Regions from separate parts of the Homo sapiens genome. Here region 1 is linked to region 2. Evidence: fine-mapped expression QTL. A gene starts in region 2. The other region holds a variant in brackets. All regions are shown on one strand. Distances are from middle to middle.

What was found. PIP is the estimated chance that this variant, and not a neighbour inherited with it, causes the effect.
Region 1: its variant is fine-mapped to the expression of SNX5 in whole blood (TOPMed, PIP above 0.99).

The regions. Positions count from the first base shown.
Region 1 is chr20:17,924,517-17,928,905 of GRCh38, forward strand. No RefSeq gene overlaps it. Among named protein-coding and RNA genes, the nearest start is that of SNORD17, 36 kb to the right of the region's middle. The variant G/A (reference allele first, on the strand shown) is at 2,709.
Region 2 is chr20:17,966,614-17,970,956 of GRCh38, forward strand. SNX5 (sorting nexin 5) reads right to left here and starts at 2,181. Exons shown (of 13, transcript NM_014426.4): 1 at 1,762-2,181. The coding sequence starts at 1,812. MGME1 (mitochondrial genome maintenance exonuclease 1) reads left to right here and starts at 2,405. Exons shown (of 5, transcript NM_052865.4): 1 at 2,405-2,528; 2 at 3,188-3,757. The coding sequence starts at 3,247. RefSeq lists enhancers at 894-1,648, 1,510-1,559, 1,610-1,779, 1,649-2,403, 2,020-2,329 and 3 more and a silencer at 1,810-2,019.

The sequences.
Region 1 (4,389 bases), 42 kb before region 2:
TACTACAAAAGTAAAAATGTACGTGTTTATGACAGATCAGAAATAAAAACTAGACCACAGTCTGAGCACAGTGGCTCAAGCCTATAATCCCAGCACTTTGGGAGGCCGAGGCGGGTGATCACTTGAGGTTAGGAGTTCAAGACCAGCGTGGCCAACATGGTGAAACCCCGTCTCTACAAAAAATACAAAAATTAGCCAGGCATGGTGGCATACACCTGTAGTCCCAGCTACTTGGGAGGCTGAGGCACGAGAATTGCCTGAACCTGGGAGGCAGAGGTTGCAGTGAGCCGAGGCCGCACCACTGCACTCTAATCTGGGTGACAGAGCAAGACTCCATCTCAAGAAAAACATAACAAACCAAAACAAAACAATAGACCTTGCCCCCAGATTCCCAGATTTTTGAGAAGAGCTGCTTTTGTGGACAGCTTAATGCATGCCTACCCTCTCATTCTCATGTCAGCATCTCTCTGCCATAAATCTAAAGAATGACTCTCTGGGGCACAGGATTTAGACATCATTTATTGTAATCGAGAGTGGCAATTTGCCCCTCAAAAGGCTAGATCCCCACCACCATTGGTATCTTGTTGTAACTCACATGTTCCTGAATACCAACGAGACGGAGCTTCTTTTTGTATGTGTATTATCCATATATATGTCCTTTGAAGCCAGCCTCAAGTCCAGGAAGTCAGCCAAGTCCTGGGTTGTGATAATCCTCCTGCAGCCTCATCTGGTTTGAACTTCCCAGAAGTCCTAGGAGGTGAACCAGGCAGGGATAATTTCCTCTTTAAACATTCCAGTTCCTCCTGTGGGACATTGAGGCTGAGGCTGCACCCAGGCCACATGCATATGTATTTATTGGCAGGGCTGGGCCTGAGACTAGGTCTCCTAGCCTAGAATTCCCTCCAAAGATTCACGAGAGTCCAAAGACTAACACCCATGGCCCGGGTCCAAAAGTTCACTAAGAGGACAGGCTGAGGCTACATGATGGGGGAAGGGGGGAGTCAGAATTAGGGCCAAGAACTAGATCTGGGAGGTCAGGGAGGGAAAGGAGAAACAGTGAGAAACTGTGACGCAGCACAACATATATCTCAGCACTGGGAATGTCTATCTTCTGGCGCTGTCGGAGGAGATAAGTAGATTATCTGTCAGCCCAACAGTCTAAGCAAAGAAGAAGCCAGGAGTTCCTTCCGTCAATTCACCTAATCTTTTAACACTGCTTATCGGTGGGGTCGATGTAACTCAAACCTCCTAAAACAACACGGGGTTTATCCTGTCCGACTCAAGCAATGAACTTGCAACTACCAAGACATCAGGCCAAACCATCACTCATTTTGCTCAGGTGTGCCTTTGTGCAAATACTCACCCTGCCAAGTCTGGGAGGCCATTTCCAGAAACCATGGGTGGTGGGTTGTAATGGCCGGTCTGCCTCGTGGCAGGCAAGCAGGTAGCAGTGAAGGAACATGCCATGAGAAGTGGGTGCAAAGAGAGAAGATCTCAGAGTTGGGTGGAGACTTAGAACCATCTAACCCAATCCTTACCCACATTCATAGGTTCAAGTACCAGGTCTCTGCACCATTTCTAGACATTACTTAGCTTCCCTGAACCTCAGTTTATTCATCTGTAAAATGGGCTCTGCCTGCAGTGGGTGACATTGGGGCTGCACCTGTATCCTGCAGACCCTGATCATCCCTGTGTACAACTTTGCCTGTGTGCTTAGAAGTGTTAGAGAATTCACACTCCCAGGAGCAACCCCCCCAAATAGCCTAACACCCCAACTCCTGAGGGGCAGGATCATTCTTAGGTATGAGTTCTACACTGTCTCCCAGGGACCCCCCATGAGACTGAGCTCCAGCTACCCACAGCAATGAGGTGCTTGACAATACACCCCAAATCAGTCGCCCTCCTCTCCCTCTTTCACTTCCCTACAGCCCCTTGAGATCACTGTCCATATAAAACACTTGCACAAGAATCCATGCAACAGAGTCAGCTTCTGGGGGAACCCAAATTAAGAAACTTTCCAACTTTCTCACAGTGTTGTTGGTAAGATCAGGTACAGCTCTCAGACAAAGGTCGAGGTTATCAGCATGAAACCGTGGCACTATTCTGTGTGCCAGGCAAAGGGAGCCACAGGTTAGTCTGAGTTGGGTATTCTGGGGCTTTTGAACTCTAGGTGGTCACATGGAGACTTTAAGGTAGAATGAACATAAGCCGTAAAAGACAGCAGAGTTGGAGCCTACTGGGCTCCGCCTGGTTTTAACTGCTCCCAACACAACAATCACAACTGCCAATCTCCAAGTTCCAAAGAACTGGCTCTGCCAACGACTCAGAAATAAGTTTTGAGCATAATCTAGCCCGTAGTTGATATCAAGCAGAAGATGTGATCTGTGGTTCTCATAGCTCACAATCTATGCAGAACCCAAAGAGAATATGTAACAATTAACTGAGCAAAACCAGCAGCAAATCCTGGAACATCGTGTGGAACTAGAAGAAGATGGTGGTTTGTTGAAAGAACACAGGAGCCCTGAAGGAGCTCCAAATGGTCAAGGTTGGAAGAATTTAAACAATAAGAAAAATAATGATAGTTTAGGACAATAACCCATAGAGTTAAATAAATGTCCACAAGTCCACACTGATATAAGTATTTGATTAAATAAGTCAATAGGGAAGTGACAGCTCTTCCTTGCAATGAAAATCCAGTCAATCCATGC[G/A]GAAGGAAGGAGCAAAGGAGAAATCAGCATTAGGTCAACACCACAGTGGTGATTGTTGCAGACAAGAGCTGCTAATAGACAACAGAATAGGTGGAAGGTTTGAGGAAAAAAGGGGTTTGCAAAGCCTTAAGTATCTCTTCCAGGAGGTTTGTTGACAAGGGTGGGGTTTGGGGACAGAAAAAACATTACCAAGGAAAAGCCCATCAGAGACCACTTGACCAGGTGATCAGGGCCATCATCACAGACGTAAGCCATCAACGCCATGCCCCCGTGACACGTGCAGTGAGCAGGATGCAGCCCCAGGCCTCTGGCGCCCTTGCCTGGGATGCACAACCTGAGCCCAAGTTCAGACAGGCCTGAACTAAGAGACTTCTGCAAAGTAACTGATCAATACTCTTCATGGGTATCTAGGTCCTGAAAGACAAGGAATGACCAAGGAACTATTATAGAGTCTAGAAGACTAGAGAGAAAAAAACAACTATATGCAAATGCGGGATCCTGGATGGGATTCTGGAGCAAGAAAAAGACGTTAATGGGAAAACCAGTGAAGTTCACACGGGATCTTTGGTTTGATTAAGGCTGCTGTACTGAGGTTAATTTCCTGGTTCTGATTACTGTGCTATGGCTTTGCAAATTGTGCTATGGTTTTGCAAGATTGGGGTCAACTGCTGGAGGGACATAGAGAAGTTGCCTGTACCAGGCTTGCAAATTTTCTGCTACTTTTACTACTAGTTTTCTAAAAGTGGGTCAAAATATAAAGGTTTTTTAAAAAAGCATCAAATGTCCAGTTTTTCAGCAGTATCTTTATTAGAAAAGGAACAATCCCCACATTGTGTTGATGTGAGCAGTACTCAAAACTGAGGCAACAGATCTCAAAATATTTTGGCATGTGGGAGTGGGGAGGTAAAGGCTGAAGCCTCCTCTGTCCGAAGCATGCCCCCGAGGCTGGGAGGAGGCAAAAATGACAAATCACATCTGAATCTGTTTGGCAGAAAAAATGTCCAGTGACCTGTCCGAGGGCCAGTCACACATTTATCAGGAGTATTAGCAGCTCCGCATTCCCAGTGCAGGTCTCCCAGGTCCACGCCCTAGCCTCAGCCCAGGACAGGCTCTGATTTCTCCGAAAATGATGTGCAAATCTGTTTCAAACCACATGACCTTTTGCCACAACCTCTTTGTGGCTTGTTCTATTGGATCAGAAGCCAGGAGTATTTTCGGAACATTGCTAATGCTCTGAGCATCTCAGTTCTAGGCCTGTAGGCCACATATGATGTGCGTTGGGCCAGAGGCCCAGGTCAAGGTGTCTCGAGGGAAATTGGAGTCAATGGTGAAGTGAGAAAGCTCTTGTGAGGCCTTTGGCCCCAGTGGGAGGGCCAGGGACAGAGGTGGGCCTGCCTGGTGAGCCCACCTGCAGGCAAGAGGCACCCTGGGGAGGTGCCAGGAAGCAGGGCGCAAGGCAAGGAGGCAGGAACAGCCACGTCTGCTCCTGCCCTTTAAACAAATACCAGGCTGTTCGAGTCCAGAGAAGAAATAAATATTGACAAAGGTGCGGAGCGGCAGGAAGGCCAGGTGGCCGAGGCCCCAGAAGGAACATGGCCTAGATAGGGTCTCCTGGGATGACTGCGAGGAAGCCTCAGCCCCGAGCCACCCTCCCCAGGGGCCCTTGGCGAGGCTGCCTCTA
Region 2 (4,343 bases):
CCTGAAGAATCAAGTATGTCCCCCTACCTTAGTGAGTCTTAATTAACTCCATCCTTAGGGAGAATTCCAAACCAAAGTAAATTATCAGGAGGGCATTTAAACAATTTAAGTAACACACATTTCAGGTAACACACAAAACATTTCAGTTGACTACCGAAATTGTATTATGGCAAAAAGTTGCCCAAGACTTAGTTTCCCATTATTTCATACTTGCCCCAAACTCCCTTTCAGTTAACCATAACACCATCTAGGCCAGACCACAGCAGGTTATCAGCATCAGCAGAGATCAGAAAACAAAAATAAAGCCACGCGTCAGGGTAATTATTTATTTTTATTGTCTCTTTATTCCTGTAATGTAAAAAGGAAAACAATGTCATGTAACTCTCTTCGCTACAGATACGGACAGTTTCTGTAGCCTCTAAAACAGGCAGGAAATGGCCTTCATAACCATTCTCCAATTTTGCTGGAGGATCAGGGTGGTGGAAGTCATTTTAAAAACCAGCTGCAATATACTGTACTACCAGAGAGTGGGGTGAAGCAATTGAGTCCTTTTACCTAGCTGACTCCGAATCAAGACAGCTAAAAGAATGTACCAGAAAGAAAGAAAAAATAAAATGCTACCAAAATCCCAATCCATTATCTACCCTTTATGGAGAAAAGTACCTTTATAATGTTTTACAAAGAATCGTGGTCTCAAGTTTCCACTTTGTTTTAGTAATAAAGAACTTTCAAAAAAAAAACCACTCTAAACAACACCCTCCTGTATAGAAAGCTCTATTTTAATAATTAATGCAATGATACCCTTGTTGGAACAATCCAGCCGCTTTGAAACTCTGGTATTTACTTACTAGATGAACAAGTTTCTCTATGGAGGTGCCTTTAACTTCTCAAGAAATGTGTAAGTTAAGACGGCTCCAAATTACATTTTAAGAGAGCCTTGTATTTTTAGAGGTTCTTTTTCATCGGTCAGAAAAACTTACGTTGACGATTCTGCAAGAAAGGTTGCTCGCAAACCATGCATCGCAAAGCTACCGAGGCAAATTTAAAGAACCAATGAAAAAGAGTGGAGGCTCGTCTGAATCTTTAATTGGCTATGGGAATTTCAATTTATTGCATAAATAATCTTTTAGACCTCAAGATACACGTGACCTAGGGACAGTTTACATCAATGGGCAAGACTTAAAAATAGACACCAAGTTCAGCAAGTATTTGAGCACCTACTAAAAATTACACAACTCCCACAACAACGCATTTTGCGTTTCTAAAGTTGTAAGCAGCATGTTCGGACGCTTGATGCAATTTCCCAAGTTGTTTGGGCCCCCCCCCCAAAAAAGTCTTCTCAGTAAAAGGTGGGGGGAAGGAGGGTATTTTGGGGGCAACAAACCAAACTGGTCTGTCGCATGTTAAGTCAATTTCACGTTCACCTACTGGTCACCACGAAGCCGAGGAAAGTTTTAAAAAGAACATTCCGGGGTCTCCAGAGATCATCTCTCCAAGTCCGCTCGGCACCGGCGCCTGAGCTGGGGCTAAGGTCCCGCGTCTCTGGTTCTGTCCTAATAGAATCCGGGACATCCACAGGGATTCCCCGGGGCAGCCTTCAGTGAAGACCAGGGAGAGGGGCCGCCCGGGTCTCACGGGTGCTTCCCGCGCTGGGGATGGCGGCGAGCAGCCACGGCCTATGGACGCGCAAGGGAAAGAATGCAGCGACCCCGGAGCTCGCAGGGCCGCCCGCCCAGGAGTCTGAGGCTGGGAGGACCTCACCTTGCTGCGGTCCTCCTCCTGCTGCTGCAGCAACTCGGGAACCGCGGCCATGGCGACGCGGGACTCGAGCAGGGGCCGCCTGGCTGTGCGAGGAAAGAAGAAGCTGGGCCGCCGCCGCCGCCGCCTGGGCGCCTCTCGGGGGCGGCCACGGCCCCGCCTCCGCCGGCCTCCCTGCCCGACGGCGGCAGGAGGCCTCCGGACTCCGCCACCATCCCAGCTGCCCCGGGAGCAGGCGAGCAGGGCGCCACGTGCTCCCCCAGAGCAGCCTCCCAGTCCCCGCTGCCGTCCATCTTGGAGCCGGGCAAAGACGCCACGTGGGGCCTACCCTTGCTCCGCTCCACGAGGAGGCCGCCAACCGCAGGGCCGCGACACGGACGGGAAGCAACGGACACTCTCCCAGCAAGACGCGTCTAGAGAAAGACCGCGTTTCGGTGCGGGGGGAATTTATTACTCAGCCCGAGTCCAAGATGGCAGCGAGCGCTGACGTCACCAGATCTCGTGAGAGCAGAAGGGCGCGATTTGGAGGCTCCCGCGCTTCGGAGACGCCGGCCCTTCCGCTCGGAGAGGTACTCCCTGCCTCTAACTGGTGGCGCGTTGGCGGAGGCCGACGAAAGCCTCGGGTGGGGCGTGAGCGCCGCGGGGCATTCTGGACCTGCTTTGCCTTAGGCTGTGCCTAATTCGAAACCAAAGCGCGGGACGGATGAAAGTACGGGTCGCGAGAGGTTGTTCGCGCCTTGAGAGTTAAGCGAAGTGTGGTGGCTTCCAAGGTACCGACACTTGCCGTAGGCTGGGCTTTTATTTAAGTCGTCTTTTCTCTAATCCAGACTCCTGCCACAGGGGCCACCGCCGTCCTGGCCCCGCCAGGGGTCCGCACCCACGGCGGAGCGGGAGGCGACTTTTTGCGGTCACAGTAATGGGACCTCAGCGCCGCCACCAGCTCTGACCGGCGAGCGACGGGACCCTCCAACCCGATTTCCACGTCTGTGCAACGGGTTCATTCTAGACCCACGGTAGAGGGTGTGAGGACCAAATGAGAAGTATCCACACAGAATACTTAGCAGAGAGCCTGGTGTCTAGGAATTAGTCGTCGTCTGTCACCTAGGACTGTGTGGCCGCCATGGGACGGGCTCCATCTTTGTGTTTTTCCGTGTCTCGCACACGCCTCCCTTCCTGGGCGTCACATTCCTGCAGATTAGAAACTGGGACGTCTTGCCTCAAGCTGTCTACTAATTCGCATTTAGTATGTGTCGGTCCTTCGGGTATTGAGTCTTGATTTATTTATAAATTTTTTTTGGAGGCAGGGTCTCGCTCTGTCGACTTTCTTAAGAAAGGGCTCTGTCCAAACATGTCGAAAAAGTTCACAATTTTGATGTGCAATATCATTCTGATGCAGCTTTCGCTTTGATGGTTGTTTTCTCTCCAATAGGAATACAAACATAAAGGCCTTCGACCGTTGCAAATAGACTAAAGTGAAAACAAATCTGAATGAAGATGAAGTTATTTCAGACCATTTGCAGGCAGCTCAGGAGTTCAAAGTTTTCTGTGGAATCAGCTGCCCTTGTGGCTTTCTCTACTTCCTCTTACTCATGTGGCCGGAAGAAAAAAGTGAACCCATATGAAGAAGTGGACCAAGAAAAATACTCTAATTTAGTTCAGTCTGTCTTGTCATCCAGAGGCGTCGCCCAGACCCCGGGATCGGTGGAGGAAGATGCTTTGCTCTGTGGACCCGTGAGCAAGCATAAGCTGCCAAACCAAGGTGAGGACAGACGAGTGCCACAAAACTGGTTTCCTATCTTCAATCCAGAGAGAAGTGATAAACCAAATGCAAGTGATCCTTCAGTTCCTTTGAAAATCCCCTTGCAAAGGAATGTGATACCAAGTGTGACCCGAGTCCTTCAGCAGACCATGACAAAACAACAGGTTTTCTTGTTGGAGAGGTGGAAACAGCGGATGATTCTGGAACTGGGAGAAGATGGCTTTAAAGAATACACTTCAAGTAATTATCTCAATTCTGATTCTATATGTTTGCTATGTTTTCTATAATAGAGAGCAACGGTGTCAAAAGAATGAGGTTTGGTTTTGTTTTTTTAACTTACTAGCAAGGAACTCCCTTCAGATAGTAATTAACATTAAATAGCACTTTATGTGTATTAACTCACTTGATCCTCATGGTAGTCCTGTGGAGTATAGATACTGTTATCCACATTTTACAGATGAAACTAAAATAGATCAAATATTTGACTAAATAATACATAAAATTCACTTGTTTTATAAGCTACCAACAATATTAGAATTGCTTGTTTTCCTTGATTATTGAAAAAAGTCACCTGGTAACAGAATTCTAGTTGTTTGCTAGATAATTCTGTTTAGAATCCAGTAAATACCCACTGTCCTACTTATTAGCGTAAACTGACTCGTAAATTTAAAGACCTTGAAGCAGACCAGAACACATGACCTATATTTAGACCTTGGTAAACATAATCAGAGGTTCTTCATAAGGATCTGAGGATAAATACACTTTAACCTTCAACTTCTAATTTACTAACTTGGACAAGTGAGGAGAATAGCTTCCTTAAATTTAA